Linked DNA regions of Homo sapiens: region 2 is linked to region 1. Evidence: fine-mapped expression QTL. Tissue or cell type: sun-exposed skin. Region 1 holds a variant in brackets; the other region holds the start of a gene. All regions are shown on one strand. Distances are from middle to middle.

Region 1 (8,104 bases):
ATCCTGCCTGAGATCTGCTCTCCATCTGAGAGTTAAGGGATGACTCTTCCCTCTGGCTCAGTGTTTATCCCAGATGCACACAGAATATGCTATTCTCTCAATCTCTGCCCCCAGTTTGAGATGGGCTCCTATGTGAAATACCAACTCCTGTAGGTGTGGTGGGGAAAGCCGGCACTTTGGGGTGAACCAACCTTAGGTTTCCAAGTCTAGCTCTGCCTCTTGGTAGCTACAAACCACAAGCAATTACGTCACATGAAAATGACAAATGATGTTGCATGTATACAGTGTTCAGCAGTTTACAAAATCACGACTTCCTTAACTTGAAAATGGCTGTGGAATTGTGCTGAGGATTTAAGGATCTTCCACACTGGCTCTGGCACATCTGGTTCAATCCTATCACTGCTGTTCCTGTTACTTTATCCCTGTTCAAGCGAGCCCTGTGAAAGGCAGCAGGACCCTGGCATGGCAGCCTTCTGCCACGGTGTGTACCACACTCATGGCACTAACACACCTCTGGCCAGGCTGCTGGGATCCCCAAAAGAAGAGGATAATTTGAGTTTTTAAAGATGCCACCTGCTTTTAAAATCACAGGGCCAGCCGGGCACGGTGGCTCATGCCTGTAATCCTAGCACTCTGGGAGGCTGAGGTGGGCAGATCACGATGTCAGGAGTTCAAGATCATCCTGGCCAACATGGTGAAACCCCGTCTCTACTAAAAATACAAAAATTAGCCAGGCGTGGTGGCACGCATCTGTAGTCCCAGCTACTTAGGAGGCTGAGGCAGGAGAATTGCTTGAGCCTGGGAAATGGAGGTTGCAGTGAGCAGAGATTGCGGCACTACACTCCAGCTTGAGTGACAGAGTAAGACTGTCTCAAAAAAAAACAAAAAACAAAAACAAATAAACCTCACAGGGCCAGTGGGCCTGGTGTCTGACTGTGAGGAAGCACTGCATTAATTTACTGTCTTGAAACAACTTGTCAGGGCCTGACATGATTTGCATTTGGGTTCCTCTTTCTAGGATTCTGAGATTACTGCCAATGCACTCAAGATACTTTTGAATGAGGCGTTTTCCAAGAGTAAGTTCCTTCTTGGGGTCTTTCAGAAAGTCCGTAGGAGATGCTGGGGCAGGGTGAGGGATGGGTAGGCAGGCATTGGGCTGGCAGCACCACAGGTGGGAGAAAGGGCATTGGTGTCTGACCCCAGGAGCCCTGATTCAGTCCAGCAAGACAAGAGGGGAAGAAGGAGAGGCAGAAGACGGGGAGGCGAGGGTGGAGGTGAAGGCGGGGCTGGTGCTGGCAAGCAGCCAGCACCTGAAGGAACAAAGCTCCATAGTGTCAAGTGAAATTGCAGGCTGAGTCCCAGGAGAAAAAGAGCTGGGCTGGGATTGACTTAAGTGAATTTTTTTCACAAAATTAATAACTTGGATACTGTGGAAACCTCTGCAGATGAAAGATCTAGTTCTGTAGCTCATCTTGAGGGAAGGAGGAAGGAAGGGATGATTCTGACTCTCCTAGACTGTCCTCAGTTCCCCATCTTCAGATTTTTGCAAGCCTCAGAGCTGTCAGGAGGAAAGATTTGCATCTCCCCTCTGAGCCCCAGCCCACAGGAGGACACAGGGAGCTGGTTTCTTTCCGGGTCCAGGGATGGGCCAGGTTAAGTCTTCCAGTGAGTGATGGGCTCTCATTCACTCACTGCAGCAGGACAGGGCTTGAGAATGCAGGAAGCAGGGGCTTGGCCCAGGAGCCAAGTCATACCCTTCCCAGGGACGAACCCAGGGCTGAGCAGATGGATCCCCAGGGCTCGGAGCACAGGCCCGTCTCCTCTCCACACCACTCTTGCTCCTGCAGTTGTTGAAGAGTGGAGAGAAAGAGAAGGGGTTGCAGGGTCTTTGGCACCTGTCTTGGCTCCCAGGTATATGGAAGGTGAGGGTGGAGGCCAGGGATGGAGCTCCAGTGACATGCCTGCAATTTAGTAAGGAAGGATAGCTGCTGTCATTGAGTGGCTGTGTGTTGTGATTACAAGCTCAGGCTGTGGAGCTGGCTGGCCTGCATTTAACTCCTAGCTTTGCCCCCTACTGGTTGTGACCTTGAGCAAATCATATAACCTCTCTGGGACTCAGATTCCTGATCTATAAAGTGGGTATAATGATAGCATCTACCACACGGAGTGATTTTGAAGAGTAGATGTGCAGTGCTTATAACAATACCTAGCCATATAAAGTTAGCTGTTTTATTAAGAACTTATCATATATCAAGCCTGGGCTAAAACTTCACTTTCATTATCTCAGTTAATACCCAGCCAGTCTTTGGGGCAAGTATGGTCATTGTTACTATCATGATTATTCCCATTTGATGGAGGAGGAAATTAAAGCTCAAAGATATTAATTTGCTGAAGTCTGTGGCTTGTGGGGAGCCAAGCCAAGGTTCAGATGCTGTACTTGGATGCTGGTGCTTGTCTGTTCTATCTCCCACGGCACCAGGAGGCTCAGGCGTATCTGCCCACAAGCCTGCCATGATGCTCTCCCCTTTTGGCAGAGACCAAGTTCGGTTCCACACCCTTGGATGGTATCTTTGGAGGTCTTCTACCGTGGAGGTTCTTTCCCTCACCTTCAAATGATCCGATTCCCACTCCCCTTTTCTATTTAAATCTTTAGGAACAGACATAAAATTCGATGGATTCAACATCAACACTTGCAGGGAAATGATCAGTCTGTTGGATGTATCCTTTAAATGTTGCATTATTTTTTTTTTTTTACTTTCGTCCGGTTTTTAAAGACTCCTCCACCTTTTCCAGTTAGAAGGAAGGGACGGGTAAAAAATGAGAAGGGGAGAGAGCAGGCATGGAGCATATGTCAAGGATTGTACTTGAAGCCTCAAAGGAAAATGTATCATATCATGGATGTGTCTCAGAAAGCTTGAGATTATCTCCGTTTCACAGGTGAAGAAACCGAGGTGTGCAGTGTTTAGGTGACTTATTTAAAATCATGTAATCTGGAGGTAGCAAGCATGGGGCATTTGCGCACCTGCTCCCTCCACACTCTGTTCATCTCTTCATCTTCCTCCTCCCCTTCAATTCTACCCGTCCCCACCCCCACCCTCTACCGTTCCCTGCTTCCCAAGCTCTCCCCATCACTATCTGATCTTTGCTTCAGAATCTTAACATGGCTTGTGGACAGCTACTACTGATAGTTTAGAGTTATCACACAAGATAAAATCTATTTGTTCTCCCTGATCTAGTTTAACCCTCACTTGATATTGAAGTATGGTGTGTTAGGCTGTTCTGGCTGCTGTAACAGGAGACCATAAACTGGGTGGCTTATAAACAACAGAAATTTATTTCTTACTCTTCTGGAGGCTGAGAAGGCCAAGATCAAGGTGCTGGTAGATTTTGTGGTGGATAAGGGCCAGTTTCCTAGTTCATAGATGGCATCTTCTTGCTATAACTTCACATGGTAGATGGGGTGAGGGAGTTTCCTGGGGTTCCTTTTATAAGGGCACTAATTTCATTTCTGAGGGTTCCACCCTCATGACCTAATTACCTCCCAAAGGCCCATCTCCTAATATCCTCACATGAGGATTGGGTTTCAGCATACAAATTTTGGAGGACAAAAACACTCAGTCTATAGCAAATGGGCAGTAGTTTTTGGGAGGAATGGAGAAGGTCAGGGCATTCTAGGTGGAAGGAACCTTCTAGGTGTGAAGGCACAGAGGGTGAGTGGTGTAACATCACTTCCTTAGAGCTTTGCCCACAGTGGGTCCAGGTTGCCATTTATCACAGTGCTGATGGTGAAGGTGATTTCTTTAAAAATTGGAGCCTTGGAGGGTTTTTCTCAGTTCCTTGGGGCCTCATCCATGATGAGCTCTGTCTGTTCATCCATGATGATCTTTACTGTGGGTTCTTTCATTAACTGCGGGACGGGAGGAAGGATTTTCCTTTGCATGGTTGTCATGCAGAGTGGTCCTGGATGACAGAGCATGTGTGCCCACCTCTGCGTGGCTGATCCACCATGGAGGGCTGGTGCTATCTTTTGGCCTCTGAGCTTCAGTCGGCCACTCCCTGCATGAGGCTGGGGCTCTTTAGCCCTCGTGTCTTTTCTCCATGCTTGACAATTTAATTTGTGGACTGCAAGGAACTGTTAAGTATTGATTCACTTTACTGCAAATAGTTCCCTGGTTTCTGAATCATTCTCATCAAACCCCATCTGTTGACTTCAGTTTAGATTTGAGAGTTGCCTTGTAATCTACCCACTCTTTATTCCCAATGGTATTTGTGTCTCTCACGGTTCAAAGAGGAGTGTGACTCTCTGCCACTCTTCAGGAGTTTCTGTTCCACAGTTTAGGTAGTGTGGGGCAGTGGTTCTGAATCAGCAGAAATACCCATGGAATCCTTAAAAAAATAACAACTCTATTGAGATATCATTTACACACCATACAGCGTACTCATTTAAAGTATATCAGGCAATGGCTTTTGTGTATTCAGAGTTAAGCAACCATCATCACATAATTTAGAACATTGTCATCACCCTAAAAAGAAACCCTGTACTCCTATTACCAGTCGCTCTCCATTTCCCCCAACCTCCACGACCATCCCTAGGCAACCACTAATTTACTTTCTGTCTCTA[C/T]AAATTTGTCTATTGTGGACATTTCATATAATGAAATTATACAATATGTGGTCCTTTGTAATTGACTTTTTTTACTGAACATGATGTTTCAATTACTATAGCATGTATCAGTACTTTATCACCCATGGGGTGTTAAAAATACAGTTTAAAAATACAGTCTTTCACATGTCCTACAAAGTGCTAGAAAAAAAATTTTAAAAATTGACGGGGCGCAGGGGCTGATGCCTGTCATCCCAGCACTTTGGGTGGCACTGGTGGGCAGATCACTTAAGGCCAGGAGTTCGAGACCAGTCTGGAACACAGTGAAATCCTGTCTCTACTAAAAATACAAAAATTAGCCAGGCGTGATGGCACATGTCTGTAATCCCAGCTACTGGGGAGGCTGAAGCACGAGAATCGCTTGAGCCTGGGAGATAGAGGTTGCGGTGAGTGAAGATCACACTGCTACACTCCAGCCTGGGTGAGAGAGTGAGACTCTGTCTCAAACAACAACAACAACAACAACAACAACAACAACAACAACAACAACCACAAAACAAACAAAAACCCCTGATTCCTGGAGATCCTGATTCCATAGGTGTGGTCTCTGCAAGCAATTTTATCTGGAATTGAAGACCACTGGTGTTCTGGGACAAAGGTTTTGAAACAGACAGGGGTCCAAATTCTGGCTCTACCACTTATTGAGGTGTATAAATTTGAGGAAGTTACTAAATGCTCTGAACTTCAGTTTCTCCTGGAAAATGGGATAATTATGTCTAGCTTGTGTGGCTATTGTTAGGATGAAATGAGATACAAGTATGTAGAGTACCTAGCCCCGAGTGTTAGCTTCCTTTGCATACTACTGTTCTGAGATGTGTTGGTTGAATTATTAGTAAGGATTTGAAGGCTATGATGCATTCAACACTCAGTGCGGATTATAGATCCAAGAACACAGACTTTCTTAAAGTATGAGGCTTACAGGACTTTTTGTTTGGCTAATTAAAGTGATAGTCTGTTTTAGAATTCTAATTATTTATTCAGAGATGGGGTCTTATTATGTTGCCCAGGCTGGAGTGCAGTGGCTATTCACAGGCATAATCTGAGCTCACTGCAGCCTCAAACTCCTGGGCTCAAGCAATCCCCCTGCCTCAGCCTCCTGAGTAGCTGGGGCTGTTTCAAAATTTTAACATTGGTGCTGTAACATACGCACTGTTTATTGATTAGTTGTGACTGGTGAGAAAATTGTAGAGTCTCTAAAAAACTTAACTTTAGGAGCATAAGTGCATTCAAAACTAAATCCCTATTGACTAGCACAGCGTTAAAAAAAAATAGTCGTGGCACTTTGGGAGGCTGAGGCAGGCAGATCATTTGAGGTCAGGAGTTCAAGACCAGACTGGCCAACATGGTGAAACCATCTCTACTAAAAAAAAAAAAAAAAAAAAAAAATTAGTGGAGTATGGTGGCGGGTGCCTGTAATCCCTGCTACTTGGGAGACTGACATGGAGAATTGCTTGAACCCTGGAGGCAGTGGTTGTAGTGAGCTGAGATCACACCACTGTACTCCAGCCTGGGCGACAGAGAGACTCCGTCTCAAAAAAAAAAAAAAAAAAAAAAGTTGTGGAGTGAATGTAAGTTGGACACAGAAAATCCCTCATAATATCCTCCTGTTTGGTTGTATAGTGGCCTATGAGCAGATTCTGTGGCTTAGACTCCCAGTCCCATGGTTCCTGGCTCCTGATGTCTTTTCCCATAACATTTTGACATTCCAACAAACTCTAATTAGCTGAATGATCAATCACAGAAATGTAAATGTAGAAGCGAATTTACAGATCATACAGCTCCACCCTGTAAATAAACCAGGATGATTAGGGTATTCACGATATTGCAGATTGGCCAGCTCATGACTTGCCCTTTGTTCCTAGCTCTGTGCCTGGCCTCAGAGGAGAGCCTTGGTGCACGTTTGACTTTTTAATCTTTATTTGAACCTGTTACACACCGTCACCCCCACTGCTCTGCTTGCCACAGACATGGAAGGTTCACTAAGGCCTTAAGGCACTCATGCAAGCTCACAAGAGAAAGAAATCTATAAGGCATGTAGAATTTGGACTCAATCATGTTGGTCTTTAATGTGCCTAGAGCAATGGAACGGGCACTTTGGGGGCGGTGGAATTCAAGACGCTCTGGCTGAAGATTCAGAAGTATCTGGTAACTCTCTTTTCCTTCTGGGCATCCTCTCCTCTGTTCTAATCCTCCCTTACACTCATTCCTGGTCCATTGTATTCTGACCACATCCTTAATCATGGTCAAAACTATTGAGTCCTGGGCACATTGGTCATGAAGGAACAAGAAGGCAATGAGAGACTCTCATGCCAACCACTGCCCTGAAAGCCCTGCTGTTCAGACAGCAAAGGGGCCAGCACTGGCCAAGCTCTTATGCTTGCTCTGAAACCTTCTTGGGAGGAGTCAATAGGGTCTCCTTTTGAAAGTGTCCCTGGCCTTTTGAGAAAGCAGTGTGGTGGAGGGAGATGGTTCTGGCAGGGGCCGTGAATGGTTGTTTTCTACTTGGGATTTCTTTCCTGCTTTAGGAGATCTATTGGGAAACTGATTATAACCACTCGGGCACCATCGATGCCCACGAGATGAGGACAGCCCTCAGGAAGGCAGGTGAGGACACATCCTGTAGACAGGGTCTTGGGATCCAGGTGTGCACATTGTAAATATTTATTCTCATGATGATGATTGCTAATGATCATCATTTGTAGCTTTCTTATATGGGATATCAAGGCAACAACAGAGCTTTGTTGAGTACCTTCCCTGTCCAGGAAGGGGAGAATATTGCTCGATTCCATATAGCATAATATTTTAGAATTTTTCCAAGATCTCTGCCTGTTACTGGGAAGGTGACAGCAATTACAGAGGAAGGGGCTATGAAGGAGACAGACAGGAACTGGCCAGACAGGCAGCCCCCTCACCTTCTCTGCTTTTGCTTGCTGATGTGACCCATGGCTGAGTTGGTGCTGGTACTAGCGCTGGACCTGGAATTAGGCTGATCTTGGTGAGGAGTAGCTACAAGGAGAGGGATGGATGGCAGGACACCTTCTGGGATCCCCTGGAGAAGGCAGAGTCAGGCCTGGTTTGCAGATTGATACAGAACCACAGAGGGGCCCCTGGGATGTCAGCTCCTTGAGTGTTTATGGGAGACAGTGCTGAGTCCTCCACTCTACCTGTGACCCAGGCTCCCTCTGCCCTCAGGTTTCACCCTCAACAGCCAGGTGCAGCAGACCATTGCCCTGCGGTATGCGTGCAGCAAGCTTGGCATCAACTTTGACAGCTTCGTGGCTTGTATGATCCGCCTGGAGACCCTCTTCAGTGAGTCACTCTGTCCTCCAGCCCCATCCTATTAATCCCAAGGTGCAAGGTGGGGCAGGGGCAGGGCCAAGGGGCAGAACCAGACATTGCCTTTAGGAGGCCAGGGACCCAGAAAATGATAGACAGGGCTTCTGG
Region 2 (8,104 bases), 120 kb before region 1:
GTTATAGTTATGCAAGACAACAAGCTTTGCAAACTTTAATCATCTGAAAAGAACACTTGGACCGCTGGGTGCAACCAGAGTGATTTATCTTCCTTTCTAAGGGGATAATACAGCCTTGATCCTTTTGACTGAGAGGAGCCATGTATAGATACAGCTCAGCATCCCCACTTGGCTGGTGTGCACAGAGAAGAGGCAGCATTCACCTGGGCTCTTTGCCGAGAAGTGTTCTTATTAAGGAGGTGCTGCCAGGCGTGTGTCAGTTGTGTCTGCACACCCTCATCAACCTCTTAGTGGATCCTCAGGCTGCCTGGCAAGGAGCTGGCACTGGTTCCTGTGGTGCCTGGGGTGTGAGGCTGGAGAGACATCTGTCCAGGTGGACAGAGACAGTGGATGCAGGCTGCTTCCTCCTGGGTACCTGGCTGGAGAACACATAGATGTTTGCTGTCTGCTCATGAGGCGCTGGGGAGCAGAGACTTCTCAACTCCACTTGTTCTTTTTGTGCCTGGATACAAGGAAGGCTCTATTTTCAGTGGCTCAGACCTGCCAGCCTCGATGAGGAAGGGTTTGTTTGCACAGCATCTGGATGTGGGAGCGAGGTAATTCAGGCAGGTGGGGTAGGAAGGAGATTGCTAACCTCGAAGGAGTTCCCTTGTGCAGAAGGAAAATTACCAGCTGTGCTTATTCTGTGATTGGATGGAGGAAGGGCTTGTTCATTTTAGTCAGTCTAAGGGGAATGTTTCTGGGAGGTGTAGGGGAGAAAGAGGCAAGAAAAACAATCCCATAGGATCCTTGCTAATGAACTAATGACCCTGCCGGAAGGTGTCAGGTCCATTATACCTGGTGCACGTTTATCCACAGCACATCTCATACCTGTAGGTGTATATTCATGCAACAAATATTTATTGAGTCCCTACTATGTTCCAGGAGCTTTCTAGGGTTCAGGAATACAACAATGAGTAAAACAAACAGGGGTAATTGTCCTCGTGGAGATCAGAGCCTTATGGGGTGGAGAGGCATTAATTAAATGATTACAGGAATCGGTGCGGGACAGGGTCTTGCAGGTTGCTATGAGAGCGTATAAGAGGGGAAAATGGCTTAGTATGAGGTGTGGAGTTGTCCAGAAAACCTTTTCTGGGGCACCCAGGTCTACTGGATGAACAGGGCTGGGGTGGGGAGAAGAACATTTCAGGTGGAGGGCACAGAAGGTGTCAAGCCCTGAAGCAGGACAGAACACAACATTCCAGGAATGGAAAGAAAGCCAGGAGGGGAGAATGGAGCAGGAGGAAAGGTAGGCAGGGCCAGCTGCTCAAGGTCTAATGGGCTGTGCAAAATCCCCCTTACTCTTCTCCCAGGAACAGTGGGCAGCCATTGGAGGTTTTAAGCTTGGCAGTGACACAGCCAAGATTTGCAATGACCATTCTGTTTTGACTGAATGGAGTTGTGGTTCTGGTTTTAGGGGTGGTTGGGGCCACCCAAGTGAGACCGTGTCAACTGTGTGGGCCGGTGAAAATGTAACTGTGAACACTAGATGAGCTTAATAGTGGGCAGATGTGGAATCAAAGGGAAAGTGATGTTGAGGGAAGGAAGACGGGGTCCCCAAGGGGGCATGGACCATAGTCTTTCTGAGGCTAGCTTTAGCCTCTGAAGGCCATTTTGGCCTTGAATTTCTTTTTCTTTCTTTCTTTCTTTTTTTTTTTTTCAGGCAGGGTTTCATCACTCTGTCACCCAGGCTGGAGTGGGTGACTCACTGCAGCCTTGACCTGACCTCCTGGGCTCAAGTGATCCTCCTACCTCAGCCTCTTGAGTAGCTGGGACTACAGGCATGCACCACCATGCCCAGCTAATTTTTCTTTTTTTTTTTTTAGAGACTGGGTCTTGTTATGTTGCCCAGGCTGGTCTTGAACTCCTGGGCTCATGCAATCCTCCTGCCTCAGCCTCCCAAAGTGCTGAGATTACAGATCTGAGCCACCATGCCTGGCCTGGCCTTGAGTTTCTGATGAAACCTGGGAAACCACATGTTTTTCTGAACACCTGGGAGCAACCCTTCTTTCTACTTGCTCAGACCTACCCACCTAGCTAAGTGCTTAACACGTGGACTGTCATTGGCTTAGAAGGTCAGAGTTGGAGGCCTCAGAGGTCGGCTGGTCCAGAGCTTCTCAGAGGGCATCCCTGGATCCTTGTATTAGCATCATCTCTGTGGTACTGGTTTAAAAACTGCAGATTCCTGGGTCTTACTTCAGACCTCCTGAATTAGAACTCTTTTTTGGGAGGGATGGGGGTGGAGGATTTGTGGTAGCACCTATTAGGGAATCAGCATTTTGAGCGAGTGCTCCAGGGGATTCTTCTGCACACTATATTTGTTTCCTGCGTCTTCTGTAACAAATGACCACAAATATGGTGGCTTAGAACAACATACATGTATTCTGTCACCGTTCTGGAGGCCAGAAGTCCCAAGGCTGTGAAATCGAGGTGTTGGAAGGCCCACATCCCTCCAGCGGCTCTAGGGGAGAATCCATTCTTGCCCCTTCCAGCTCCTGTGGCTGCTGGTGTTCCCTGGAGTGGGGCAGGATCTCGCTAACCTCTGCCTGCCTCATTTCATCACCTCTCCTTTTTGTCTATTGTCAAATCTTCTTCTGCCTTCCTCTTAGGACACTTGTGTATTTAGGGTCAGGATAATCTTCCCATCTCGAGATCCTTAACTTAGTCATAGCAGCAAAAACCCTTTTCCCAGATAAGGGACTATTTACAGGTTCTCAAGATGAGGACCTGGTATCCTTGGGGGACCATTTTCTAGTGTGCCACAAACACTGAAGTTCAAAAAGCATTGGTGTGGTTGACATCCTTCGGGTAGACCAGATGTAGGAAACTGGAGCCCAGAGAGAAGTGACTAATCCAAGGTCATACAGCTTGTAACTCACTTCTGAGATTGGAATCAAGGCTCCTGATTCCAAGGCCTTTCTGGGAATCCTGGCTTCAAGGAATAGTGATACCTGACATTCACTGAATGTTACTTCATACTGTTCTAAGCAGATGACATGTACTATCTCATCACTCTTCCGAACAACCCTTTGTGGTAGGCTCTCCTATGCTCTTCCAGTTTATAGATAAAAAAACTTAGGAGAAAAGAGGTTAAACAACTTGCCCAACATGACAGAGCAAATTACCGGGGGAGCTGGGATAGAAACCGAGGCAGTCAGAGGCCAAAGCGTTCACTCACAGGTGGAACCTCCTCCAGTCAGGCTTATTCCAAATCTGGCCTGTGAATCACTACTCTCTGGTATTTTTTGCCTTCCTAGGAAATATGCACCAAAACATTTCTGGCAGGAAAGGAGGCCCCTGTAACTACTTGCCTTCTTCCTGCTCAGAGCCATGCCTCCAATTCCTTGATGAATATTTGCTTCAAGCTGCTCAATAAGCCTTCTCATCTCAGTCAATGGGCTTGAAGCAAGGTAAGCAGGTCTTGCAAAGAGGTGTGTGGAGGGAATGCCGGGGTGGGGTCAAGATCCTAATGGATTTCTTAGGCTAATGGCCTGGGATGGGCCCTGGAAAGTTCCCAGACCCCAAATTATTTGCAAAAGGCAGAAGAAGAAGGTGGGGCAGATTGGCCTGGACCTTGGGTACATATTTGTCCCTGGCCATGACTCACTTCCTTCTGGAACAGGGCCTCAGGTGAAATGTTTGTCTGCTCCACCTCCTTTAGTGCCTTATAGCTCCCCTCCCAGTGGAGCAGGTGTCTGAGAGTACAGTGCAGCCCTGCCCTTCTGTCCACCCTACAGAGCCCACGGCCATGGCAGCCCAGGCAGCTGGTGTATCTAGGCAGCGGGCAGCCACTCAAGGTCTTGGCTCCAACCAAAACGCTTTGAAGTACTTGGGCCAGGATTTCAAGACCCTGAGGCAACAGTGCTTGGACTCAGGGGTCCTATTTAAGGACCCTGAGTTCCCAGCATGTCCATCAGCTTTGGGCTACAAGGATCTTGGACCAGGCTCTCCGCAAACTCAAGGCATCATCTGGAAGCGGCCCACGGTAAGGAAGCGGGCTTGCTGTTGAGTGACATACAAGGTGGAGGGGCCTTACATCTGATCAGGAGGAACTGAGGGAGAAGTTGAGGCTGTGGACCCTAAGTGTCTGGATCTCATATTTCAGATCCCTCCACCACCACCTTTTTTAATTTTATTTTTTTGAGATGGAGTCTTGCTCTGTCACCCAGGCTGGAGTGCAATGGCATGATCTCAGCTCACTGCAACCTCTACCTCCTGGGTTTGAGTGATTCTCCTGCCTCAGCCTCCCGAGTAGCTGGGATTACAGGCATGTGCCACCATGTCTGGCTAATTTTGTATTTTTAGTAGAGATGGGGTTTCTCCATGTTGGTCAGGCTGGTCTCAAACTCCCAACCTCAGGTGATCCATCTGCCTCAGCCTTCCAAAGTGCTGGGATAGCAGGCATGAGCCACTGCATCTGGCCCCCCCATCACCTTTTGAACTCTTATTTTTTTTGAGGCAGAGTCTCACTCTGTCACCCAGACTGGAGTGCAGTGGTGCGATCACAGTGCACTGCAACCTCAACCTTCCTGGGCTCAGGTGATTTTCCTACCTTAACCTCCCAAGTAGCTGGGATTATAGGCACGTGCCACCACACCCAGCTAATGTTTACATATTTTTGTAGAGACAGGGTTGTGCTGTGTTGCCCAGGGTGGTCTTGGACTCCTGGGCTTAAGCCATCTGCCCACCTCAGCCTCCCAAAGTGTTAGGATTACAGATGTGAGCCACTACACCCAGCCTGAACTCTTGTTCAGAGATGGTGAGGTATAGAGAGAAGAGCATGGATGAGCTTTGGAACTAGGTAAGATAGATTTGAATCCTAGCTCTGCCTGTGTTGTTTTGGGCCGGTAAACTCTGTGAACCTTAGTTTTCTCATCTGTAAAATGGCATTTACTGGCACCTTATTTTTCAGGGTTGGTATGAGAATTAGAGATAAATCTCAGAGCATAGTGCCCAGAACATAATAGATGCAGAATACGTAGTTGTTATTACTGCATATGGTCCCTGGGCCAGTGCACAATGGAACAACTCAGTGCTGGATGCAATCAGCTGGCAGGTAAATTGTGACAACATCATTGCTGAAAGGTGCACGGTTGCGCAAGGTCATGAATTGACATTATTCCATCAGGGCTGGTGAGTGGAGAGGTGGGAGCTGGGGCTCTGTGGATGCAGACGGAAGGCAGAGGCTCCTGGATGCGGTTACTGATACTACCCAAAGCTCAAGGGCAAGGGATGGAGAACAGTCCTCCCAAAACCTAGACCCATGACCTATCACTATGTGACCCTTGTCAAGTGATTCCTCAGGGATGAGAACCTCTCCCATACAGAGTGGTTGTGAGAATTGAGCTCATCCATACAAAGTGCTCTGTTCAACAGAGCTCATAACAACGTCTCAGGAGAGGGGCTATGAAATGACCTGGGCACCTTTTGTCTTCTAAACCATGATAGGGAAATTAAGTCAGGGTTCCTATTTTCTTGGCAGTGGTTGAAACAGGAAGACAAAGGGAGAGTACTTCTTCTAAAATGGTCAAAATCACTATTTAACTCCAGCTAGCTACCTCTACCCTTTTTACTTTGATCCTGCTGATTTTGCCTAACAGTTTTCATCTCTGAGAATAACTCCTTGGCCATGCTGCCCTCCCGCCCACCGTGGTTCATCTTCCCATTCCCCTCTGAAACCTATAGGGTTACCCTGGTATGTTGATAAAATCCAGATTGGGAGTAATGGTTTTTATTCTAATTTCAAGACAGCCACATTTCATTTCAACAGACAGTTTTTTTGAGCTTCCATTTTGTGCCAGGCATGGGCTCTGCACTGATTGGAAAGGTGGTCAGGGAGAAGCTGAGGAAGGAGCTGTGGTCTCAGCTCTGATGGAAAGTGTGGGGAGACACAGGTGTGAATAAAGGACAGATGCCCAAGGCAGAATGAAGTAAGAACTCTACAGAGGCATAAATGATGGGCCATGGGAACCTGGGTTGTCACAACTGGGTGGTGAAAAGCCTTAGGGAGGGGTACCATTGCAGATCCCAAGGGTCTTGGGGGAGAGGAAGGAGGGGGAGAAAATTTTCCTTTAGAGACCAAAGTCAGGTATCAGTTAACCTTTGCTTAGTTTTTCTCCTTTCTTTGAAATCCTTAGAGACTTTACCTCCTTAACCACATAGCCTGTTCTTCCCCAAACTATGTCTTCACCTGTCCTCGTGGTCTGTGGAAATGCGGTAATTGTAGACTGGATGTGCTGATTTGTGGCTGTCAAAGGAGGAAGTAAAATTCAGAGCATGAGGCAGTAGAACCTGAGTAATGCGGAAGGTGCAATTGAAGGACTCCTATTTGGAGTTTTCAAGTGCGTGTTGAGTAAATAAATGCGTGTCAAAATTTAACCTCTCCTTCCCTAATCATCAGTGAAAAATTATCACACAGCTGCTTTTGGGCAGGCTCATGCTCACATACCACAAGGGTACATTAGAGAAGGCAGACTTATCCTCTAAGATCTTACAGTTATTGAATAGACTCCTGAATCAGTAAAGATTCTGATCCTATCTCTATGAGGAACATGCATTGAATGCTGAGAAAATTAGCCTGATCCTAAATGCTTCATTATTATTTTTTCCTCCCAAGAGGCCTTTCAAGGGTTTGCAAAGAGATCAGGGTATCCAGAAATGTGGTGCATTGTAAGTTCATTTGTTGCATTTACTCATTTATTTTTAAATTGTGGTATGATACACATAACATAAAATTTGCCATCTTAACCCCTTCTAAATGCACAGTTCAGTGGCATTAAGTACATTCCCATTGCTATGCAACCATCACCACCCTCCATCACCAGAATTGTTTTTATCTTGCAAAACAGAAACTAAATACACATTTAAAAACTCCCCATTCATTCTTCCCCGAATTTCGTTTCCTTTCTTTTCTTTTTTCTTTTTCTTTCTTTCTTTTTTTTTGTTTGAGATAGAGTCTTTCTCTGTTGCCCAGGCTGGAGTGCAGTGGCGCGATCTTGGCTCCCTGCAACCTCTGCCTCCCCAGTTCAAGCGATTCTCCTGCCTCAGCCTCCTGAGTAGCTGGGATTACAGGCACCTGCCACCAAGCCTGGCTAATTTTTTGTACTTTTAGTAGAGATCGGGTGTTGCCATGTTGGCCAGGATGGTCTGGAACTCCTGACCTCAAGTGATTCAATCACCTCGGCCTCCCAAAGTGCTGGGATTACAGGTGTGAGCCACTGCGCCTGGCCCTTCTCCCCAGTTTCTGACAACTGTTCTCCTTTCTGTCTCTTTGAATTTGATTATGTTGGGTACCTCATATAAGTGGAATTATACAGTATTTGTCCTTTTGTGACTGGCATAACTCACTTAGCATAATATCCTCAAGATTCATCCATGTTGTGGCATATGTCAAAATTTCCTTCCTTTCAAAGGTTGAATAGTATTCTGTGGTGTCTATAGACCACATTTTGTTTATTCATTTGTCCATTGTTGGTCTTGGGTTGCTTCCACTTTTGGTTATTGTGAATCATGCTGCTACAAACATGGGCATACAAACTTCTCTTTGAGACCCTGCTTCCAGTTCTTTTTGTTATATACCCAAAAGATATGACCCATGGCTGGATCATATGGCAGTTCTACGTTCAAGTTTTTGAGGAACCACAGTGCTGTTTTATATAGTGGTTGCACCATTTTGCATTCCCACCAGCAGTGCACAGGGTTCCTATTTCTCCACATCCTTGCCAATGTTTGTTATTTTCTTTCATTTTTTTTCTTTTTTGAGATGGAGTTTCACTCTTGTCTTGTCACCCAGGCCGGAGTACAATGGTGCGAATTCGGCTCACTGTAACCTCTGCCCCTCGGGTTCAAGTGATTCTCCTGCTTCAGACTCCCGAGTAGCTGGGATTACAGGCACTCGTAACAATGCCCAACAAATTTTTATATTTTTAGTAGAGACAGGGTTTTGCCATGTTGGCCAGGCTGGTCTTGAACTCCTGACCTCAGTTGATCTGCCCACCTTGGCCTCCCAAAGTGCTAGGATTACAGGTGTGAGCCACTGCACTCAGCCATTTTCTGTTTTTTGATA

Evidence for each region. PIP is the estimated chance that this variant, and not a neighbour inherited with it, causes the effect.
Region 2: it holds the start of CAPN8, and the variant in region 1 is fine-mapped to the expression of CAPN8 in sun-exposed skin (GTEx, PIP 0.91).

The regions. Positions count from the first base shown.
Region 1 is chr1:223,543,932-223,552,035 of GRCh38, reverse strand. It overlaps CAPN8 (calpain 8), which reads left to right. Exons shown (of 21, transcript NM_001143962.2): 15 at 1,019-1,076; 16 at 2,654-2,718; 17 at 6,737-6,805; 18 at 7,186-7,264; 19 at 7,853-7,969. Among named protein-coding and RNA genes, the nearest start is that of CAPN8, 120 kb to the left of the region's middle. RefSeq lists enhancers at 771-830, 1,231-1,280. The variant C/T (reference allele first, on the strand shown) is at 4,622.
Region 2 is chr1:223,661,330-223,669,433 of GRCh38, reverse strand. It overlaps CAPN8 (calpain 8), which reads left to right and starts at 3,733. Exons shown (of 21, transcript NM_001143962.2): 1 at 3,733-4,024. The coding sequence starts at 3,788.